2 separate regions of the Homo sapiens genome follow, and region 2 is linked to region 1. The links come from fine-mapping of genetic effects on gene expression. A gene starts in region 1. The other region holds a variant in brackets. All regions are shown on one strand. Distances are between the middles of the regions. Region 1 holds the start of NUCB1 (nucleobindin 1). Region 2 holds the start of NUCB1-AS1 (NUCB1 antisense RNA 1).

Evidence for each region. PIP is the estimated chance that this variant, and not a neighbour inherited with it, causes the effect.
Region 2: its variant is fine-mapped to the expression of NUCB1 in whole blood (TOPMed, PIP above 0.99).

The regions. Positions count from the first base shown.
Region 1 is chr19:48,894,864-48,904,924 of GRCh38, forward strand. NUCB1 (nucleobindin 1) reads left to right here and starts at 5,449. Exons shown (of 13, transcript NM_006184.6): 1 at 5,449-5,509; 2 at 5,923-6,068; 3 at 9,484-9,591. The coding sequence starts at 5,934. It overlaps TULP2 (TUB like protein 2), which reads right to left and starts at 3,881. Exons shown (of 13, transcript NM_003323.3): 1 at 3,727-3,881; 2 at 2,974-3,006; 3 at 2,482-2,533; 4 at 1,567-1,693; 5 at 503-640; 6 at 135-299. The coding sequence starts at 3,005. RefSeq lists enhancers at 13-828, 3,276-4,091, a silencer at 1,255-1,394 and a cis regulatory region at 3,626-4,625.
Region 2 is chr19:48,916,553-48,928,084 of GRCh38, forward strand. It overlaps NUCB1 (nucleobindin 1), which reads left to right. Exons shown (of 13, transcript NM_006184.6): 8 at 2,174-2,232; 9 at 2,478-2,570; 10 at 2,642-2,734; 11 at 4,602-4,772; 12 at 5,275-5,380; 13 at 5,766-6,820. The coding sequence ends at 5,872. It overlaps NUCB1-AS1 (NUCB1 antisense RNA 1), which reads right to left and starts at 2,339. Exons shown (of 2, transcript NR_046633.1): 1 at 2,152-2,339. RefSeq lists enhancers at 2,538-3,037, 6,184-6,683 and a silencer at 10,360-10,654. The variant T/C (reference allele first, on the strand shown) is at 5,963.

The DNA of each region.
Region 1 (10,061 bases):
GAATTGTGAACTTTAAATGGGTGACTTGTATGGTTTGTGAATTATACTTCAGTGAAGCTGCTGCCTAAGAAAGGGGAAGATTTGCTGCATGAACCAGGAGATCCCAGGTTTCACCCCAATGTCCCCTAAATTACCAGGTCGTTGGTGGGCTTGCCAACCCTTGCGTCGGATTCTCGGAGACTGTTTAAAAGGTGGGGGAGAGACGGAACCATTCTCCACGGAGACTTCCTCCAATTCTGCATCGGAATTGTCTGGGAGCCAGGATAAGAAAGGGGACTGGAGACCGAGATTCCTGAACACTGAGGAAGGAAGGAGGGGAGAGTTGGATTTCTGGATGCTGCAGGAGGAGGCGGCTCAGGACCTGAACTCCTTGGTGTGAGGAAGGAGTGGGTGCGGTCCTGAGCTCCTGAGTATTTTGGACAGATGGATTGAGGCACCAGACTCCTGGGTTTTAGTGGGGACGGAGTTCTGGGGTCTAGGAGGTCGGTGGACTCGCAAATACCTGCTTCTGTCCGCGGTGTCGGGAGGCCGCGCTCGCCCCTGCCGTCTCCACCACAGCTCACGGTGCCCAGGGCACTGTGGATGCCAGAGGGCAGATGTGCCTCTGACACTTTCTTCCGGAGGAAAGGGTTCCCAAGGCCTGGGAGAAGGTTCAGCGAGCCCATGAAAACGATCTACAAATTCCGGTCCTCAACCAAAATCCACCCCGTCACTGGGCTCCCAAATATCACCCCCGCCAGGCGCCGTGGCTCACGCCTGTAATCCCAGCACTTTGGGAGGCCGAGGCAGGCGGATCACCTGAGGTCGGGAGTTCGAGACCAGCCTGACCAACATGGAGAAACACCGTCTCTACTAAAAACACAAAATTAGCCGGGCTTGGTGGCGCATGCCTGTAATCACAGCTACTCGGGAGGCTGAGGCAGGAGAATCGCTTGAACCCGGGAGACGGAGGTTGCGGTGAGCCGATATCCTGCCATTGTACTCCAGCTTTGGCAACAAGAGCTAAACTCCGTCTCAAAAAAGAAAAAAAAATCACCCTGTTTCGCGGACCGCCCAAACCTTGAGACCCAGGTCCCAAACTGCATCCTAAGCCTCAAACAAGCACAGCCCTGCCGCTGGATTGTTGCGGGCTCCGCACGTAAAGAATCTCGCGCCAGGCTCTCGTAATGAGACCGCGCCCCGCCCCGGACCCCTAGACCCCGTCTCCGCAATCCCGGGTTTGGGGTGGGGGTCCCGGCTTTCCCAGGCTCCACCACCGAGCTCTGCCAAGCCCAATCATCACATTCTCTTGCCCCTTTCCCCTGCTAGTTGTACCATGCCCCGCCCCTGCGCTCTGTAGCCCTGCCCCGAACCCCTCCCTCACAGGTCCTGCCGCGGGGGGCCCCCACAAGCCTCTCCCCTGGGCGCCCACAGGCCCTGTTCTAAAGCTCTCCTGGGCCAAGGCCCGCCCCCATCCACTGCCAAGTCCCCACCCTAAGGCTCCACCCCTTCATCCACTAGGCCCCGCCCACAGACTCCCACAGGCCCCTCCCCTCCAGGCGAACGCCCCCAGGGGTCTTTGGTCACCTCTGTCACCTAAAAGGCGCTCCTCCCGCAGACAAGAGCGCCAAAGCCACGGGGAAGCGTCAGGATTGGCCTGAACCATGAGGAGCTCCTGGCGCTTCTGTCGCTGCTTCTTTTCAAACAGCCGCCGCTGGGGAGATGGGAGAGGTGGGTGTCCGGGACAGGAACCAGATGGGAAGACAGAAGTGAGGTGGGGCCTGGGGCAAGGGCTCGCATCGGCGCGAGAGTTCGTGAACCCCTTCCTCCACTGGGGCCCACACGTCCAGGCCCTCAGTTCTTCAGCAGCTCCTCCCTTATTCCACCGTTGGACTCAGATCCAAGAGTCCTGACACCCTGTCCTCTCATCCCCCAGGACCCAGGAGTCCTGCCTTCTAGAAGCCTTGTTCCTTAGAAATTCATCACAAGGGTTTGTTTGCTTCTTTAGAACCCCCAATTCCTATTTTCTTTTCTTTTTCCTTTCTTACTTTTTTTTTTTCTTTTTGAGACAGAGTCTGGCTCTATCGCCCAGGCTGGAGTGCAGTACCACGATCTCCGCTCACTGCAGCCTCCGCCTCCCGGATTCAAACGATTCTCCTGCCTCAGCCTCCCGAGTAGCTGGGATTACAGGCGCCTGCCACCACACCTGGCTAATTTTTTGTGTGTTAGTAGAGACGGGGTTTCGCCGTGTTGGCCAGGCTTGTCTTGAACTCCTGACCTCAAGTGATCCGCCCACCTCAGCATCCCAAAGTGCTGTGATTACAGCCGTGAGCTGCCCTGCCCGGCCCCAAATTCCTATTTTCTCATTTCTCAGTGGGAAAACTCAAGGATGAGAGACAGCCAACACGGGCTGGGAGTCCTAGAGCAAGACCTGGTGGAGAGGCCCCTGGGGAGGCACAGAAGGCGGAAGAGTTGGAGTGGTGAGATTCCTGGGCACAATACCTGCTGTTCCAGCTTCTGCAGCCTCATAGCAGCGAGCTCATGCCCCAGGATGCTGAGAGAGACACAGGCCCATGGTGACAGTGCACAGGGAACCTCGGTTGCCCAAGAGAGTCCCTCCTTCCCCCATCCTGCCCCTATCTCAGCTTGGGTTCTGGGCACCTGTGAGGTCACAGGAGGTGCAGAACCTGAGCCTGCTCCACCAGTTATAGGGCCCTTTCTCCTGGCACTGGCCCACAGAAGCCGGGACCCAGAGATCCCAGGTCCCTCCTGTCTCAGGATTCAGGAGTCTGGGGCCCCCAACCCCTTCTCTTTCAGACCCAGAAGTCTGCACCCTAGCCCCATCCCTTCAGGACACAGGAGTCCAGGTCCCCAGCCCCTTCCTGCAAGGCCGATGGTGCTGAACCTGCAAACATGGTTATGAAGCCAGAGCCGAGTGCACGGGGTCCCCAGCCCTTTCCACCTCCACCCCTACCCATCTGTTTCCCTACTCACTCTCTCATCAATGTGTCATTATCCTGAGACATTCTGCAGAAGCAAGAATGAGGAGTCAGGATCAGAACCAACATCCCAATGGATCCTGCCCACCAGCACCTAATCTTTAGCCTTATTTATTTATTTATTTATTTATTTATTTATGTATTTAGAGACAGCTGAGCCTCGCTCTGTCGCCCAGGCTGCAGTGCAGTGGCGCCATCTCGGCCACTGCAACCTCCACCTCCTGGGTTCAAGCGATTCTCCTGCCTCAGCCTCCCGAGTAGCTGGGACTACAGGCGTCCGCTATTCTGCCTAATTTTTTTGTATTTTAGTAGATACCGGTTTTCACTATGTTGGCCAGGCTGGTGCCGGACTCCTGACCTCAGGTGATCTGCCCGCCTTGGCCTTCCAAAGTGCTAGGATTACAGGCATGAGCCACAGTGCCCGGCCTGATCCTTACCTTTAAATTTGCTTCCGGACCCAGGCAGCCCGAATCCCAGCACCCACTCCTGTCGGGATCTAGTAGCCTGTTTCCAGCTTCCCACGGGGGTCCGCAAGTCCGCTTCTCTCTCCCCCAAATATCTAATTCTCCAGCACCCAGGCATCAGAACTCAGGACTGTGCACTTCAAACACCCAGCCCCCAGCGGCCTAGAACTCCACTGCCCACCTGCCTGGGATCCGGGAGACTTGTTCTCCTCACCAGGTGCCTGGAGAGGCTGCTCACATTGATGCCTCGGTACCTTGCCTCTCTGGCCAATCTCTAAACATACCTGATCCTCTCTTTGGAAGCTGGGGACCTAATCTCGGGATATCTGCGAAATAGGGAGGAGAAGAAAGACGGCTCAGAGGGAGGGAGGATTCCCTCTGGGACCTGAACTGGTCCACTCCCTTCTGACCCTCCACTCTCCACTTCCAACAAAGTAACGAACTCGGTCACTGATGCAGCCAGGCAACCCTGCTCCGGGGGTTCTGAACACGAATGCCGTGTGGGGGTTCCTTAAAGAGACCAGAGACCGGCCCGGCGCGGTGGCTCACGCCTGTAATCCCAGCACTTTGGGAGGCCGAGGCGGGCGGATCACGGGGTCAGGAGATCTAGACCATCCTGGCTAACATGGTGAATCCCCGTCTCTACTAAAAAAAAATATATATATATACACAAAAAAATTAGCCGGGCGTTGTGGCGGGCGGGCGCCTGTAGTCCCAGCTACTCGGGAGGCTGAGGCAGGAGAATGGCGTGAACCCGGGAGGCGGAGCTCGCAGTGAGCTGAGATCGCGCCACTGCACTCCAGCCTGTGTGACAGAGGTAGACACCGTCTCAAAAAAAAAAAAAAAAAGAGAGAGAGAGAGCGGGAGACCAGAGACCTCGCGGCCTCACTGTACACATCTCGCTTACAAGAAACTTAAAAGAGGCGGGGCGCAGTGGCTCACGCCTGTAATCCCAGCACTTTGGGAGGCGGAGACGGGGAGGCAAGATTGCTTGAGTCCAGGAGATCCAGATCCAGACCAGCAACACAGAGATTTTTTTTTTTTTTTGAGACGTAGTCTCACTCTGTCGCCCAGGCTGGAGTGCAGTGGCGCGATCTCGGCTCACTGCAACCTCCGCCTCCCGGGTTTAAGAGATTGTCCTGCCTCAGCTTCCTGAGTAGCTGGGATTACAGGCATGCGCAACCACGCCTGGCTAATTTGTATTTTTAGTGGAGGCGAGGTTTCTCCATGTTGGCCAGGCTGGTCTCAAACCCTTGACCTCAGGTGATCTGCCTGCCTCAGCCTCCCAAAGTGCTGGGATTACAGGAGTGAACCCCCAAGCCCGGCTTGACATCCGTCTCTTTAAAAAACAACAACAACAAAGTGTGAGAAGTGTGAAAGACAGAACGTTAAAAAAAAAAAAAGGCTAAAAAAGAATTAAAGATTTAAATATTTGTATTAAAAATTTAAAAAATATACATTAGCCAGGCATGGTAGTGTGGCCTGTGGTCCCATCTACTTGGGAGGCTGACGCGGGAGGATTGCTTGGGCCTGGGAGGTAGAGGCTGCAGTGAGAAGTGATTGCGCCACTGCACTCCAACCTGGGTGACAGAGCAAACCCTGTCTCGAATAATAAGAAGAAGAAGAAAGAAACTCATAAGAAAGGCTATGCAATTGCTACCGCGCTATAACTTCCAGGCACTTCGTGGGGCGAAAATAAATGGGAAAACTACAGCTCCCATGAGGCGAAGGGGCCACGATGCCCGCGGAAGTTATTTTTCCCCCGGCCGGCAGGGAGTTGTAGTTATCTTTGAAAGCCTTCTCTCTCTTTTGGCATAGGCGGGAAATGTGGCGTCAAGAGGCTGGGATTCCGAGAAAGAAGCGAGGCTTTCACGAAAATGCGAGCGGCTTCGGCAAGGGGCGGGGCCGCTGGACGTGGATGAAAGCTACAGAGCCAGCGTGGACCAATCAGACCTCTTTGGGGCGGGGCCTCTGTGGATAAGTGGGCGTGGTCTAGGGGGGAAGTCACCAAGAACGCACCGGAGGTCCTTGCCCGCCCTGGAAAACGCCCTCTGCGGTGAAGGAGAGGTGAGAGGCCAGGGTTCCCATACTCTTGGGTCCTAGGGAGGATGGGGGCCAGAGGGCTGGAAAACTGGGTCCCGGAGGAGGATGCACTGGGTGCCAGTACTTTAGGTCCTGGGAAAAGAGGAGGCTGGGACCCTGGACTCTTGGGTCTGGGGGAGGAGGCGGCCGAGATCCCGGATTCCTGAGTGTGAGAGAGGAGCGTGTTGGGAGCCAGGACCCCTGGGTCTGAGGGCCCAGACTCCTGTGTCGGAGGAAGGGAAGGCCGGAGGCCTGGAATCCTGGGGCCTGGGTAACAAAATGCTTGTGTCTTGATTCTTGGAAGTGGGGGCGGCGCTGGGGGCCCGAACTCCTGGTTCCAGGGGAGGAAGAGGCTTGGGACAGACATTATGCATTATCCAGCCCTCCATCCCCCACAGACCACACTGCCATGCCTCCCTCTGGGCCCCGAGGAACCCTCCTTCTGTTGCCGCTGCTGCTGCTGCTCCTGCTTCGCGCCGTGCTGGCTGTCCCCCTGGAGCGAGGGGCGCCCAACAAGGAGGAGACCCCTGCGACTGAGAGTCCCGTGAGTGGCCCTGCCCTGCTATCCAGCCAGGTGTTTGCAGTGGTACTACAGCTCCTGCAGACCCCGGTGCCCGTAGGGCGGATGCTCCAGTGACTTCCTGGCCCTACAGTTGTAGCTTGTTTTTTGCCCACCATTCCTCCCAGCAGCAGGGGTTTGACTTGGTGAAAAACTGGAGGTCCCTGACTCTGAGGTGTGGAAAATCTGCATCACGCCCCAACTAAACGTCTGTTTTTTTAAGATTCTCTCCACCCAAGAAGGAATTTGAAAACAAACAAACAAAACTACATTTCCCAGTAGCACCATGTTGCTAGTTCCCAGTAGCAGTTGATGTTGGCTAGCTGGGGTATTCTGACTTCATGGTGCTCTTGGGAGTTGTAGTTTAAATTACAGAAGGGCGGGTGAACTGCTTGTTTATTAATTCCTACATGTGTTTATCAAACCCAATAAAAGCTTTGGTCTTAAGGGATTTGGAACTTTGGAGATCCTGAAGGTCAGTGAGTGTCTTGTGGTCCGAATCTTCCTATAGCTCCCCATAAGGATAGGCTGGTCAGGCCAGGCGCAGTGGCTCATGCCTGTAATCCTAGCACTTTGGGAGGCCGAGACAGGCGGATCACTTGAGGTCAGGAGTTCAAGACCAGCCTGGCCAACATGGCAAAACCCCATCTCTACCAAAAATGCAGAAATTAGCTGGGCGTGGTGGCTCACGCCTATAATCCCAGCTACTCTGGGAGGCTGAGGCACGAATTCTCGTGCTGGAACCAAGAGAGGTGGAGGTTGCAGTGAGCCAAGGTCACGCCATTGCACTCCAGCCTGGGCAACAGAGCTGAGACTCTGTTTTCTGAGACTGTCTCAAAAAACAAAGAATGGGCTAGTCATTACCCCCTGGAACGGATCATTGCATGTTCCTGGTCCCCACGCTGCAAGTTAGGCCTCTATTCTGTGAAATCCTTGCAGACCCAGGAAGGCTTTGTTGAGTCCCATTTCTTTTCTTCCATTCCACATGTTTCCTGAGCACCTTCTATGAGCCGGGCATAGTGTTGCCTATGTGTTGCATAGTTGTTAGGGCCCAGCCATGTGCATGCCCCATGCCCATGGACTATCCCTGCTCACTGGGAGATGGAAGACAAAGGGCAGGGCTCTATGAGAGTGAACACCAGGGGTGACAGTCAGGGAGGAAGGGAGGCGTGAGTTGAGTTCTTTCTTTCTTTCTCGCTCTGTCACCAGGCTGGAGTGCAGTGGTGCAATCTTGGCTCACTGCAACCTCTGCCTCCCAGGTTCAGGTGATTCTCCTGCCTCAGCCTCCCGAGTAGCTGGGACTACAGGCGCACACCACCACGCCCATCTAATTTTTGTATTTTTAGTAGAGACGGAGTTTCACCATGTTGGCCAGGATGGTCTCGATCTCTTGACCTCTTGATCTGCCTGCCTCGGCCTCCCAAAGTGGTGGGATTACAGGCATGAGCCACCTCATTTTTTCTTTTCCTTTTTCTTTTTTTTTTTTTTTTTTATTTTTGCTGTGTCACCCAAGCTGGAGTGCAGTGGTGCAATCACTGCAATCTCCATCTCCCAGACTCAAGCGATCCTCCTGCCTCAGCCTCTGGAGTAGCTGGGACTGCAGGCATGTGCCACCATGCCTAGCTAATTTTTTTTGTATTTTTGATAGAGACAGGGTGTCATTATACTGCCCAGGCTAGTCTCGAACTCCTGAGTTCAAGTGATTTGCCCGCCTCGGCCTCCCAAAGTGCTGGGATAATAGGTGTGAGCCACTGAGTTCTGAACTGGAGAGATATGTTAAGTCAAGAGCAAGGAAGAGAGGAAGTGAGGGGAAGAGCATTCCAGGCAGAGGGAACAGCATGAGCAAAGGCCACTTGGTAGGAGAAAGCAGAGCAAGTTGAGGACGTCAAGGAGGCTGCTGTGGCTGGAGCAGGGAGAGTGAGAGGGAGGGGAGAGGGGGATTATGTGGATCATGTGGGATCTTGTGAGACTAGGTAAAGAGGTAAAGAATGTATATATATATATATATGTTTAATAGACAGGGTCTTGTGCTGGTGCCCAGGCTGAAGCGCAGTGGCAGGATCATACCTCACTGCAGCCTTGAACTCCTGGGCTCAAGTGATCCTCCTACCTCAGCCTCCCAAAGCACTGGGATTACAGGCATGAGCTACCATGCCTGGCCTTCTCTCTTTTGTAATTTTATTTATTTATTTTTTCCAACTTATCTTATTTGCTTTTCACCACAACTCTGGGAGGCAGAGGATATATTGCCTATTTTATAAATAGTAAGAGCATAGAAGGCCCAGGGAGAGTAAAGTCCCACCCAGCTACGCATGACGGGGGTGGGACTAGGAGGCCTGGGACTTTTGTCTGTGTTGTTCACAGTGCCTGGCATATGATAGGGGCCTGGTGAATGTTTGTTGAATGAATGAATGCATGCATGGGCGGGTGGGTAGATGGATGGGCAGTTGGATGGATGGGCGGGTGGATGGATGGGTGGGTGGATGAGTGGATGGATGGATGGATGGGTGGTTGGATGGATGGGCGGGTGGATGGATGGGCGGGTGGATGGATGGGTGGGTGGATGAGTGGATGGATGGATGGGTGGGTGGATGGATCGATGGGTGGGTGGATGGATGGATGAGTGGATGGATGGGCGGGTGGATGGATGGGTGGGTGGATGAGTGGATGGATGGATGGACGGGTGGTTGGATGGATGGGCGGGTGGATGGATGGGTGGGTGGATGAGTGGATGGATGGATGGGTGGGTGGATGGATGGATGGGTGGGTGGATGGATGGATGAGTGGATGGATGGGCGGGTGGATGGATGGGTGGGTGGATGAGTGGATGGATGGATGGATAGATGGATGGATGGATGGATAGGTGGGTGGATGGATGGGCAGGTGGATGAGTGGATGGATGGATGGATGAGTGGATGGATGGATGGATGGATGGATGGGTGGGTGGATGGATGGATGGGTGGATGGATGGATGGATGGGTGGGTGGGTGGATGGATGGATGAGTGGATGGATGGGTGGATGGATGGATGGATGATGGGTGGATAGATGGGTGGGTAGGATGTATGTATGGATGGGTGGGTGGGATGTATGGATGGATGGGTGGGTGGATGCATGGATGAATGGGTGGATGCATGGATGGATGGATGGTTGGATGGATGGATAAAAGTATGATTCACAGCTTCCCAACAAGTCATGTCCACTCTGAGCACCCACTCTGGGCAGTATTGGGCTGGGTGTTCACTGATGTGATTTTCATTTCATCTTTGCTGCATATGTGGGAAAAGGTAAAAACTGAGTCCCTTGTCAGCTGCCCCAGGGAGCAGGCCATAGCAGTAACAGGAGTGAGGGTGGGGATGGGGATGGGAGCAGGGGCTGCTATGTCTGTCCTTGTTGCCTCAGGACACAGGCCTGTACTACCACCGGTACCTCCAGGAGGTCATCGATGTACTGGAGACGGATGGGCATTTCCGAGAGAAGCTGCAGGCTGCCAATGCGGAGGACATCAAGGTGCGGCTGGGGGAGTGGGGGCTGTGGGAGGGGTACGTGCTGGGAGGGCAGAGTTCAGGGGAGGACTGGTTTCTTTTTTTTTTTTTTTGAGACGGAGTCTTGCTCTGTCACCCAGGCTGGAGTGCGATGGTGCGATCTCAGCTCACTGCACCTCCACCCCGCAGGTTCAAGCAGTTCTCCTGCCTCAACCTCCCAAGTAGCTGGGATTACAGGCGTACACCACCATGCCTGACTAATTTTTGTATTTTTAGTAGAGACGGGGTTTCACCATGTTGGCCAGGCTGGTCTCGAACTCCTGACCTCGTGATCCTCCCATCTCGGCTTCCCAAAGTGTTGGGATTACAGGCATGAGCCACCATGCCTGACCATACTGGTTTCTTCAAAGGGGCCACATGGCTCCAGCTGTGCCTGTATTTGAAAATCACCAAAGTAAGACTCAGGGAGAAGTTGCTTCTTGGGGTCACAAGCTG
Region 2 (11,532 bases), 22 kb after region 1:
AAGGCTGCAGTGAGCTATGATCATACCAGTGCCCTCCAGCCTGGGCAACAGAGTGAAACCCTGTCTCTAAAAAATAGAAAATAGGCTGGGCTCAGTGGCTCACGCCTGTAGTCCCAGCACTTTCGGAGGCCAAGGCAGGCAGATCAGGAGCTCAAGAGATCGAGACCATCCTGGCCAACATAGTGAAACCCCGTCTCTACTAAAAATACAAAAATTATCTGGGCATGGTGGCACGCACCTGCAGTCCCAGCTACTCAGGAGGCTGAGGCAGGAGAATCACTTAAACCCTGGAGGTGGAGGTTGCAGTGAGCTGAGATCATGCCACTGCACTCCAGCCTGGCAACAGAGCGAGACTCTGTCTCAAAAATAAATAAACAAATAAATAGGCCCGGCGCAGTGGCTTACCCCTATAATCCCAGCACTTTGCGAAGCCAAGGCGGCTGGATCCCTTGAGACCAGGAGTTCAAGACCAGCCTGGGCAACATGGCAAAACCCCATCTCTATGAAAACAAATACAAAAATTAGCTGGGTGTGGTGGCGTGCATCTGTAGTCCCAGCTACTTGGGAGGCTGAGGTGGGAGGATCACTTGAGCCGAGGAGTTCAAGGCTTCAGTGAGCTACGATCACACCATTGCACTCCAGCCTGGGTGACAGAGTGAGACCCTGTCTCTAAAAAATAAAAAAATAAAAACCTTATTTAATCTTTTTAATCAGGCAGTCCCTACAGACCAGAATAGGTTCAGAGCAACTCCCTATACCTTTTTTTATTTTTCATTTTTTTTATTTTTAGAGATGGGGCTTCCCTTTGTCACCCAGGCTGGAGTGCAGTGGCGTGATCATGGCTCACTGCAACCCAGACCTCCTGGGCTCAAGTGATTCTTCCACCTCAACCCTTAGAGTAGCTGGGATCATAGGTGCACACCACCATGCCCAGCCAATTTTTAAATTTTTTTTTTCTTTTTGAGGCAGAGTCTTGCTCTGTTGCCCAGGCTGGAGTGCAATGGCATGATCTTGGCACACTGCAACCCCCGCCTCCCAGGTTCAAGCTATTCTCCTGCCTCAGCCTCCTGAGTAGCTGGGGTTACAGGCACTTGGCATTATGCCTGGCTAATTTTTGTATTTTTGTAGAGACGGGGTTTTACTATGCTGGCCAGGCTGGTCTTGAACTCCTGACTTCAGGTGATCCTCCTGCCTCGGCCTCCCAAAGTGCTGGGATTACAGGCGTGAGCCACCGCACCCGGCCCAATTTTTTACTTTTTTTTTTTTTTTTGTAGAGACGGGGTCTAGCCATCTTTTCTAAGCTGGTCTCGAACTTAATGTGCTCAAATGATCTTGCCTTAGCCTTCCAAAGTACTGGGATTACAGGCATGAGCCCCTAAATTTGGCCCCTACATTTTCTTTAATCTTAATCAATTTACATTTAAACAGCCCATGTGGCTAGCGGCTACTGTACTGGACAGCGCAGATCCAGAGTTTAGGCAGAGAAGAGACCCCCAGGCCTGAGCCCTGGGCCACACTAGCATGTGGAGGTCAGGAAGAGGATGGAGCCGTCAAAGGAGGTGGAGGGGCAGCCAGAGAGGACAGAATCATGTTCTGGAAGCCAAGGGCAGAAAGTCAAGTCAGATGCAGGTGGAAATTAACCACTGGATTTGCAAGATGAGGGTTCCTGGCCTCCTCCTCAGGAGGAAGGTTGTGCTTGTCTGAGGGAGCCGAGGAAGGAGGGCCGGTGGTGAGGACAGGAAGTGTGGCTGACCGAGCCTGAAGCCCTGCAGCTGTGGGGTCTACGTTGGTAGGAGAGGCTCCCCTCACAACTGGAGTCGGCACTGGCCTGGTTGTCTGGGAGGCAGAGGTCCCTGATAACCCTGGAGCTGACTCTGTGTCCAGAGCACTGAATGCCAGGGCCAGAGAATCCTGCATGACAGTGACCCAAGCATGTTTCCTCGAACCCTCCCTTTGATCTATTCCATTCTCAACCCCCTGGTCGCTAGGCAGTGGCCCTAGCAACGGGTCTAGTGGGGTACTAAAGCCTGGGGGCCACCGTTCCACCGCGGGAGACCCGTAGTTACCTGTCCTCTGATAACAGACCCCACATCAGCCCAAAATTTCTTCACCAGGGACCTTACACATCCCGTCCTCGGTCCCCTGAGATACCTTGCTATCCTCTTCCCTTCAGATATCAACAGTGATGGTGTCCTGGATGAGCAGGAGCTGGAGGCACTCTTCACCAAGGAGGTGAGCATCTTGGAAGCCTCGGGCACCTGGAGGGACGCCCAAATCAGCCACTTGTTTCCTCCTGCAGTCCCCTTAAATCCCCCTGGATGGGAGCTCAGTGAAAACTACAACTCCCATCAGCCCCTGGGGCAAAAACGGCTCCCAGGAGTGGTAGCGTGCCCAAAGGACTGCTGGGAGTTGAAGTTGTCGGGAATGAGCTCGCTGGGGACCTCTCAATGCTGTCTGCCTCTCGCTTGCTCCTGCAGCTGGAGAAAGTGTACGACCCAAAGAATGAGGAGGACGACATGCGGGAGATGGAGGAGGAGCGACTGCGCATGCGGGAGCATGTGATGAAGAATGTGAGGTGGGGGCCAGGCGGGGGAGAGGACGGGCCCCCAGCTCTGTCACTCACCCTTATCTGGCTCCCCAGGTGGACACCAACCAGGACCGCCTCGTGACCCTGGAGGAGTTCCTCGCATCCACTCAGAGGAAGGAGTTTGGGGACACCGGGGAGGGCTGGGAGGTGAGAACATGGGGGATACTCGGGGTCCTGAACCTCTCTCTCTTCTAGCCATGACCTTTCTTTCAGAATCTTAGGCCCCTTCTCTTTCTCTCTGGGTCCCCGTCCATTCTCCTGGGTCACTGCATCTCTATCTCTGGGTCTCTGTTTTCCCCTGTCTCTAGGACTCTTATTTATTTATTTATTTATTTATTTATTTATTTATTTATTCTGAGACGGAGTCTCACTCCATCGCCCAGGCTGCAGTGCAGTGGCACGATCTCGGCTCACTGCAGCCTCCACCTCCCAGGTTCAAGCAATTCTCCTGGCTCATCCTCTTGAGTAGCTGGGATTATAGGTGCGTGCCACCACACCCAGCTGATTTTTGTATTTTTAGTAGAGGCAGGATTTCACCATGTTGGCCAGGCTGGTCTCAAACTCCTGACCTCAGGTTATCCACCCACCTTGGCCTCCCAAAGTGCTGGGATTAGAGGTGTGATTTTTTTTTTTTTTTTTTTTTTTCTGAAACAGGGTCTTGCTCTGTCGCGTAGGCTGGAGCCCAGTGGTGGGATCTCGGCTCACTGCAACCTCCGCCTCTTGGATTCAAGCGATCCTCCCATCTCAGCCTCATGAGTAGCTGGGATTACAGGCGTGAGCCACCATGCCTGGCTAATTTTTGTATTTTTTGTAGAGATGGGGTTTTGCCATATCGGCCAGGCTGCTCTAGAACTGCTGGACTCAAGCGATCCACCTGACCTGGCCTCCCTAAGTGGTGGGATTACAGGCATGCACCACCGCACCACACCTAGCTAATTTTTGTATTTTTTGGTAGAGACAGGGTTTTGCATGTTGGCCAGGCTGCTCTGAAACTCCTGGACTCAAGCTATCCACCCTTCTCAGCCTCCCAAAGTGCTGGGATTACCCAGGCTGGAGTGCAGGGGTGTTATCATGGCCCACTGCAGCCTCAAACTCCTGTCCTCAAGTGATCCTCCTGCCTGAGCCTCCCTATTAGCTGGGACTACAGGCACATGCCAGCATGCCTAGCTAATCTAGCTCATTCTTTTATTTATTTATTAATATTTTTTGAGACAGGGTCTCCTGTCACCCAGGCTGGAGTGCAGTGGTGTAATCATAGTTCACTGCAGCCTTGAATTCCTGGGCTCAGGTGATCCTCCTTCCTTAGCCTCCTGAGTAACTGGGACTACAGGCACATACCACCATGCCCAGCTAATCTAGGTCTCTGTTTTATTTATTTATTTATTTGTTTGTTTATTTTTCAATACAGAGTTTTGCTCTTGTTGCCCAGGCTGTAGTGCAATGGTGCATTCTCAGCTCATTGCAACCTCCACCTCCCAGGTTCAAGCAATTCTCCTGCCTCAGCCTCCTGAGTAGCTGGGATTATATGCATGTACCACCATGCCCTGCTCATTTTGTATTTTTAGTAGAGACGGGGTTTCTCCATGTTGGTCAGGCTCATCTCAAACTACTGACCTCAGGTGAGCCACCCACCTCGGCCTCCGAAAGTGCTGGGATTACAGGTGTGAGCCATGGTGCCTGGCCTATTTCTATATATTTTTCAAGATGCCCAGCCAATTTTCTGTAGAGACAGGGTCTCGCTCCGTTGCCCAGGCTGACCTTGAACTCCTGGCGTCAAGTGATCCTTCCCACTTTCGCCTCCCAAAGTCCTGGGATTACAGGTGGGAGCCATGGTGCCCGGCCTTGTCTCTCGGTCTTTATCCCACTCCCACCTCCCACTTGGGCTTCTTTGCCCACCCACATGGCCCTGGCCTCCCAGCCTCCTCTACACCTCCCCCATTGGCACAACCCTCTCCAACATGGGTGGGCCGAGGTTGGACCTGTGCCCCTGATGGCCCCTGTGCCTGCCCTGCAGACAGTGGAGATGCACCCTGCCTACACCGAGGAAGAGCTGAGGCGCTTTGAAGAGGAGCTGGCTGCCCGGGAGGCAGAGCTGAATGCCAAGGCCCAGCGCCTCAGCCAGGAGACAGAGGCTCTAGGGCGGTCCCAGGGCCGCCTGGAGGCCCAGAAGAGAGAGCTGCAGCAGGTGACAGCGGGGGAAGCTGCTTCCATCCACTGAATCTCTGGCTGCCCGTGTCCGTGTCCCCATGGGTGTCCAGAAGCTGGGAAGGCCTGTGGCCACCATGTTAATCACTGGGGGAGCCTCAAGTATTCACCGCCATCTTGAGTAAGGGCAGACGTTTTCCCGTCTCTGACGGCTCTGTGGCTGCCATGTGAGATAAGGGCATTAAGGCTGTAAGTGAGGAGGGAAAGGCCCAGGAGGGGGAGAAAGGCAGACTCAGCCAGGGATGGGTGAGGGTTTCCCTGTCCCAAAGCAAGACCCAAGCTGTGACTGGAGGGAGAACTGGATCCTTGACTATTATTAAGCCCGACTGTCAATGAAAGAGAGAAACTGAGGCCCACGGAGAAGGGGTTGGCCGTGACCACTTAGCAGGCTGCTGTGAAGTCTCCGTTTGGGGACTGAGGCCTGAGCACTTGCAATGCCAGCATCACACCCTCTTGTCTGTGTGACCCCCCACCTCCCACAGGCTGTGCTGCACATGGAGCAGCGGAAGCAGCAGCAGCAGCAGCAGCAAGGCCACAAGGCCCCGGCTGCCCACCCTGAGGGGCAGCTCAAGTTCCACCCAGACACAGGTGCTGGCCCTAGTCCAGGGAGGAGGGGCTGCAGGGCTGGACCCCTGGGTCTGAGGTTGGAGGGGCTGGGCCTGGACTCCCAGATCTGAGGGAAGAGGGACTGGGGGCCCAGACTCCCAGATCTGAGGGAAGAGGGACTGGGGGTCCGGACTCCTGGGTCTGAGGGAGGAGGGGCTGGGGGCTGGGACCCCTGGGTGTGAGGGAGGAGGGGCTGGGACCCCTGGGTGTGAGTGAGGAGGGGCTGGGGGCTGGACCCCTGGGTGTGAGGGAGGAGGGGCTGGGGGCTGGACCCCTGGGTGTGAGGGAGGAGGGGCTGGGCCTCTGGGGTCCTGGGGGAGGAGGGGTTCGGATGTCCTGTGCCACCATTCCCTCCCTCCATTTCCAGACGATGTACCTGTCCCAGCTCCAGCCGGTGACCAGAAGGAGGTGGACACTTCAGAAAAGAAACTTCTCGAGCGGCTCCCTGAGGTTGAGGTGCCCCAGCATCTGTGATCCTCCGGGACCCCAGCCCTCAGGATTCCTGATGCTCCAAGGCGACTGATGGGCGCTGGATGAAGTGGCACAGTCAGCTTCCCTGGGGGC[T/C]GGTGTCATGTTGGGCTCCTGGGGCGGGGGCACGGCCTGGCATTTCACGCATTGCTGCCACCCCAGGTCCACCTGTCTCCACTTTCACAGCCTCCAAGTCTGTGGCTCTTCCCTTCTGTCCTCCGAGGGGCTTGCCTTCTCTCGTGTCCAGTGAGGTGCTCAGTGATCGGCTTAACTTAGAGAAGCCCGCCCCCTCCCCTTCTCCGTCTGTCCCAAGAGGGTCTGCTCTGAGCCTGCGTTCCTAGGTGGCTCGGCCTCAGCTGCCTGGGTTGTGGCCGCCCTAGCATCCTGTATGCCCACAGCTACTGGAATCCCCGCTGCTGCTCCGGGCCAAGCTTCTGGTTGATTAATGAGGGCATGGGGTGGTCCCTCAAGACCTTCCCCTACCTTTTGTGGAACCAGTGATGCCTCAAAGACAGTGTCCCCTCCACAGCTGGGTGCCAGGGGCAGGGGATCCTCAGTATAGCCGGTGAACCCTGATACCAGGAGCCTGGGCCTCCCTGAACCCCTGGCTTCCAGCCATCTCATCGCCAGCCTCCTCCTGGACCTCTTGGCCCCCAGCCCCTTCCCCACACAGCCCCAGAAGGGTCCCAGAGCTGACCCCACTCCAGGACCTAGGCCCAGCCCCTCAGCCTCATCTGGAGCCCCTGAAGACCAGTCCCACCCACCTTTCTGGCCTCATCTGACACTGCTCCGCATCCTGCTGTGTGTCCTGTTCCATGTTCCGGTTCCATCCAAATACACTTTCTGGAACAAATGCATGGCTCCATGCCTGTGTATCTGGACTGGTCCCTCCAAAACGCTATTGCCACGTCACCTGCCGGAGTCCTCATCTTTGAAGACTGGATTCAAGCATCACTTCTGAGAGGCTCAATCCTGGTATTTTTCCATCTGCCCCTGATGAGTCTGCAGCCTTCACTCAGGGTCCCTTCAGCCACAAGGACAGAAAACCCAAACCTGGGATTAAGCAATTTTTTTTTTTTTTTTTTTTGAGATGGAGTCTTACTCTGTCACCCAGGCTGGAGGGCAGTGGTGTAATCTCAGCTCACTGCAACCTCTGCCTTTTGGGATCAAGCGATTCTCCTGCCTCCGCCTCCCGAGTAGCTGGGATTACAGCTGCCTGCCACCACGCCCGGCCTTCTAATTTTTGCATTGTTTTAGTAGTGATGGGGGTTTCACCATATTGGCCAGGCTGGTCTTGAACTCCTGACATCATGATCTGCCCACCTTAGCCTCCCAAAGTGCTGGGATTACAGGAGTGAGCCACTGCACCTGGCCGGGATTAAGCAACTTTTAAAAGATGAATTTGGCCAGGTGCTGTGGCTCACGCCTGTAATCCCAACACTTCGAAAGGCCAAGATAGGGGGGATCACTTGAGGCCAGGAGTTCAAGACCAGCCTGGTCAACATGGCAAAACCCCATCTCTACTAAAAATACAAAGATGAGCCGGGTGTGGTGGTGGGCACTTGTAATCCCAGCTACTCGGGAGGCTGAGGCAAGAGAATTGCTTGATCCTGGGAGGCGGAGGTTGCAGCGAGCCAAGATTGCACCACTGCACTCCAACCGGAGTACCAGAGCAAGATTCCATCTCAAAAAAAAAAAAAAGAATGTACCAGGTATGGTGGCTCCACCTGTAGTCCCAGCACTTTAGAAGGCAGAGGCGGATAGATCACGAGGTCAGGAGATGGAGACCATCCCGGCTAACACGGTGAAACCCTTTCTCTACTAAAAATACTAAAAAAATTAGCTGGGCGTGGTGGCAGGCACCTGTAGTCCCAGCTACTCAGGAGGCTGAGGCAGGAGAATTGCTTGAACCCAGGAGGCAGAGGTTGCAGTGAGCCGAGATCATGCCACTGCACTCCAGCCTGGGTGACAGAGCGAGACTCTGTCTGAAAAAAAGAAGGCTGAGGCAAGAGGATCACTTGAGCTTAGGAGTTTGAGACCAGCCTGGGCAACATAGCGAGACCCCGTCTCAGAAAAAGAAAAAAAATTAGCTGGGCATGGTAGTGTGTGCCTGTAGTCTCAGCTGCTTAGGAGGCTGGTGTGGGAGGATCCCTTGAGCCCTGGAGTTTGAGGCTGCAGTGAGCCATGATCTATCACTCCACTGCACTCCAGGCTGGGTGACAGAATGAGGCCCTGTCTCTAATAGAAAAAAGAATAAATAAAAATGAATTATGATAAAAACCAAGATGTCCCAAGGCAGGATGACTTCAGGGAACCAGGTTCTCGCATCCCCTAGCTGTGCCAAGGATAGGTTTGGGGGCTGGACCCCCCCTCATGGTCCCAAGGTAGCTGCAGCTGCTCCAGATGTCACCAACAGCCAGTGAAGGAAGAGGCCGCATTCTGTTCTGGGCATTGTTAAGTGGGAGAAAATCTGTCCCCAGAGTTCCCTCTCCTTTCAGCCCTCTCCTCATGTTCCCTTATATCCCACTGGCTGTGAGGCACAGGTCAGTGACAGCTGCAGACAGATCCACCAAGCTGGCATCCACCAGTGGTGATTTCATCCTCACCTGGGATGGGGATGCTTTCCTTGGACCAAGTTGGGGTCTGGTAAAAAGCAAGCGGGGAATATTTGTTTTTGTTTTGTTTTGTTTTTGGAGACAGAGTCTTGCTCTGTCTCCCAGGCTGGAGTACGATGACGCGATCTCGGTTTACTGCAACCTCTGCCTCCTGGGTTCAAGCGATTCTCCTGCCTCAGTCTCCTGAGTAGCTGGGATTACAGGTGCCCAGCACACACCCGGCTAATTTTTCTGTATTTTTAGTAGAGATGGGGCTTTCACCATGTTGGTCAGGCTGGTCTTGAGAACTCCTGACCTCAGGTGATCCCCCCGCCTCGGCCTCCCACAGTGTTGGGATTACAGGCCTGAGCCACCACGCCCGGCCAGGAGTATTTGTTTAAATGAAATTCTGGCCAGGCACAGTGGTTCATGCCTATAAGCTCAGCACTTTGGAGGCCAGGGATGGGCAGGGTGGGGGGTTTCAGGAGAGGATGACAGGAGGATGACTCAAGCTCAGAGCTCAAGACCAGCCTGAGCAACATAGCAAGACCTCATCTCTAAAAAAAAAAAAAAAAAAAAAAAAAAAATTAGCCGGGTGTTGTGGCATGCACCTGTGGTCCCAGCTACTCAGGAGGCTTAAGGACAGAAGAATCGCTTGGCCACAGAAGGTTAAGGCTACAGTGAGCCATGACCACGCCACTGCACTCCAGCCTGGGAGACAGGGCAAGACCCTTTCTCGAGAAAAATAAATAGGCCGGGCACAGTGGCTGATGCCTATAATCCCAACGCTTCAGGAGGCCAAGGAGGAAGGATCCTTTGAGCCCAGGAGTTTGAGGCCAACCTGGGCAATATAGGGAGACCCCATCTCTATGTAAAAAAATAAATAAATAGGGCCAGGCGCAGTCACTCACAACTATAATCCCAGCACTTTGGGAGGCTGATGTGGGCGGATCACTTGAGGGCAGGAATTCAAGCCCAGCCTGGGCAACGTGAAACCCCGTCTCTACAAAAAAATACCAAAATTAGCCGGGCGTGGTGGTGTACACCTGTAATCCCAGCTACTCAGGGAGGCTGAGGCACAAGAATCACTTGAACCTGGGAGGCAGAGGTTGCAGTGAGCCAAGATCACACTACTGTACTCCAGCCTGGGTGACAGAGCAAGACTCCATCTCAAGAAAAAAAAAAAAATTAGCTGGGTGTGGTGGCACATGCCTGTAGTCCCAGCTACTTGGGAGGCTGAGGTGAAAGGATCGCTTGGGCCTGGGAAGCGGTGATTGCAACGCTGCACATCAGCCTGGGTGACCAAGCGGGACTCTGTCTCAGAACAAAACAAAACAAAAATACATATTCCCAGATCCTGGAATGTCCTGGGAAGCTATATGTGTGTCATGCCCTCCCAGCTGCACCTGAACAATGAGCATAGCAAACATCAGCTGCAGCCTCTCTTTGCCTCTCTCAGAAAATGAGGGGAGTTGAGCTTCAGTGACCCAATCTGGAAAACGGGCCTAAATGGTGTTCTTTGAAAGGTTCATATAGGCAAAGCGGTCCCCAAATGCCGAAGGAGCCAAGAAACCAAAGAATGAGGCCGACCCATCTAGTTTGTCAATACAGGGTGGTTTATTAGGGGGAAACTTAGAGTGTGGTCTTCGCCAGGCATGGTGGCTTATGCCTGGAATCCCAGCACTTTGGGAGGCCGAGGCAGGTGGCTCACTTGGGGTCAGGAGTTCGAGACCAGCCTGACTGACATGGTGAAACTTGTCTCCACTAAAAATACAAAAATTAGCCAGGTGTGGTGGTGGGCGCCTGTAATCCCAGCTACTGGAGAGGTTGAGGCAGGAGAATCACTTGAACCCGGGAGGTGGAGACTGCAGTGAGCCGAGCTCACGCCACTGCACTCCAGCCTGGGCTACAAAGCAAGACCCTGTCTGGAAAAAAAAAAAAAAGAAGTGTGGTCTTGGGCAGCAGCAAGACAGATAGATCACACCCTGCAACCCCCAGACACAGGGCTTCTATCTCGAGGAAAGCATATCTGTGCTCTGGAAGAAACGCGTAGGTGGCTATGGGCGATACATCTTGTGATGGATGTGACAACATCAAGGCTTGTTCTGGAGGAAAGGCTGGTAAGTACGTGTTTCTACATAAAGAGTAACACATCCGTTAGACATGTTGGAGGCATTCCCAGTTTCGGGTTAGTCAGAAGTCACACGGCAGGCTGGGTGCAGTGGCTCATGCCTATAATGCCAGCATTTTGGGAGGCTGAGGCAGGAAGACCGTTCGAGCCCAAGAGTTTGAAACCAGCCTGAGCAACATAGTGAAACCCCGTCTCTTTTTTTTTTTTTTTGAGACAGAGTCTCACTCTTGTTGCCGGTGGCTCGATCTCGGCTCACTGCAACCTCCGCCTCCCGGGTTCAAGTGATTCTCCTGCCTCAGCCTCCTGAGTAACTGGGATTACAGGCGCCCACCACGCCCAGCTAATTTTTGTATTTTTAGTAGAGACAGGGTTTCGCCATGTTGGCCAGGCCGGTCTCAAACTCCTGTCCTCAGGTGATCTGCCCTCCTCTGCCTCCCAAAGTGCTGGGATTATAGGCATGAGCCACCACGCCCAGCCAACCCTGTTTCTTTCTTTTTCTTTTTTTTTTTTTTTTGATACGGAGTCTTGCTGTGTCCCCCAGGCTGGAGTGCAATGGCACAGTCTCGGCTCACTGCAACCTCCACCTCCCGGGTTCAAGCAATTCTCCTGCCTCAGCCTCCCAAGTAGCTGAGATTACAAACCCCGTCTCTTAAAAAAGGAAAAAAATCACATGGCAGAGTAGCATTTTAAAATAAAGTCACGAGGCTGGGCGCGGTGGCTCACGCCTGTAATCTCAGCACTTTGGGATGCTGAGGCAGGCGAATCACCCGAGGTCAGGAGTCTGAGACCAGCCTGACCTACGTTGAGAAACCCCGTCTCTACTGAAAATACAAAATTACCCGGGCCTGGTGGCGCATGCCTGTAATCCCAGCTGCTCAGGAGGCTGAGGCAGGAGAATCGCTTGAACCCAGGAGGTGGAGGTTGCGGTGAGCCGAGATCAC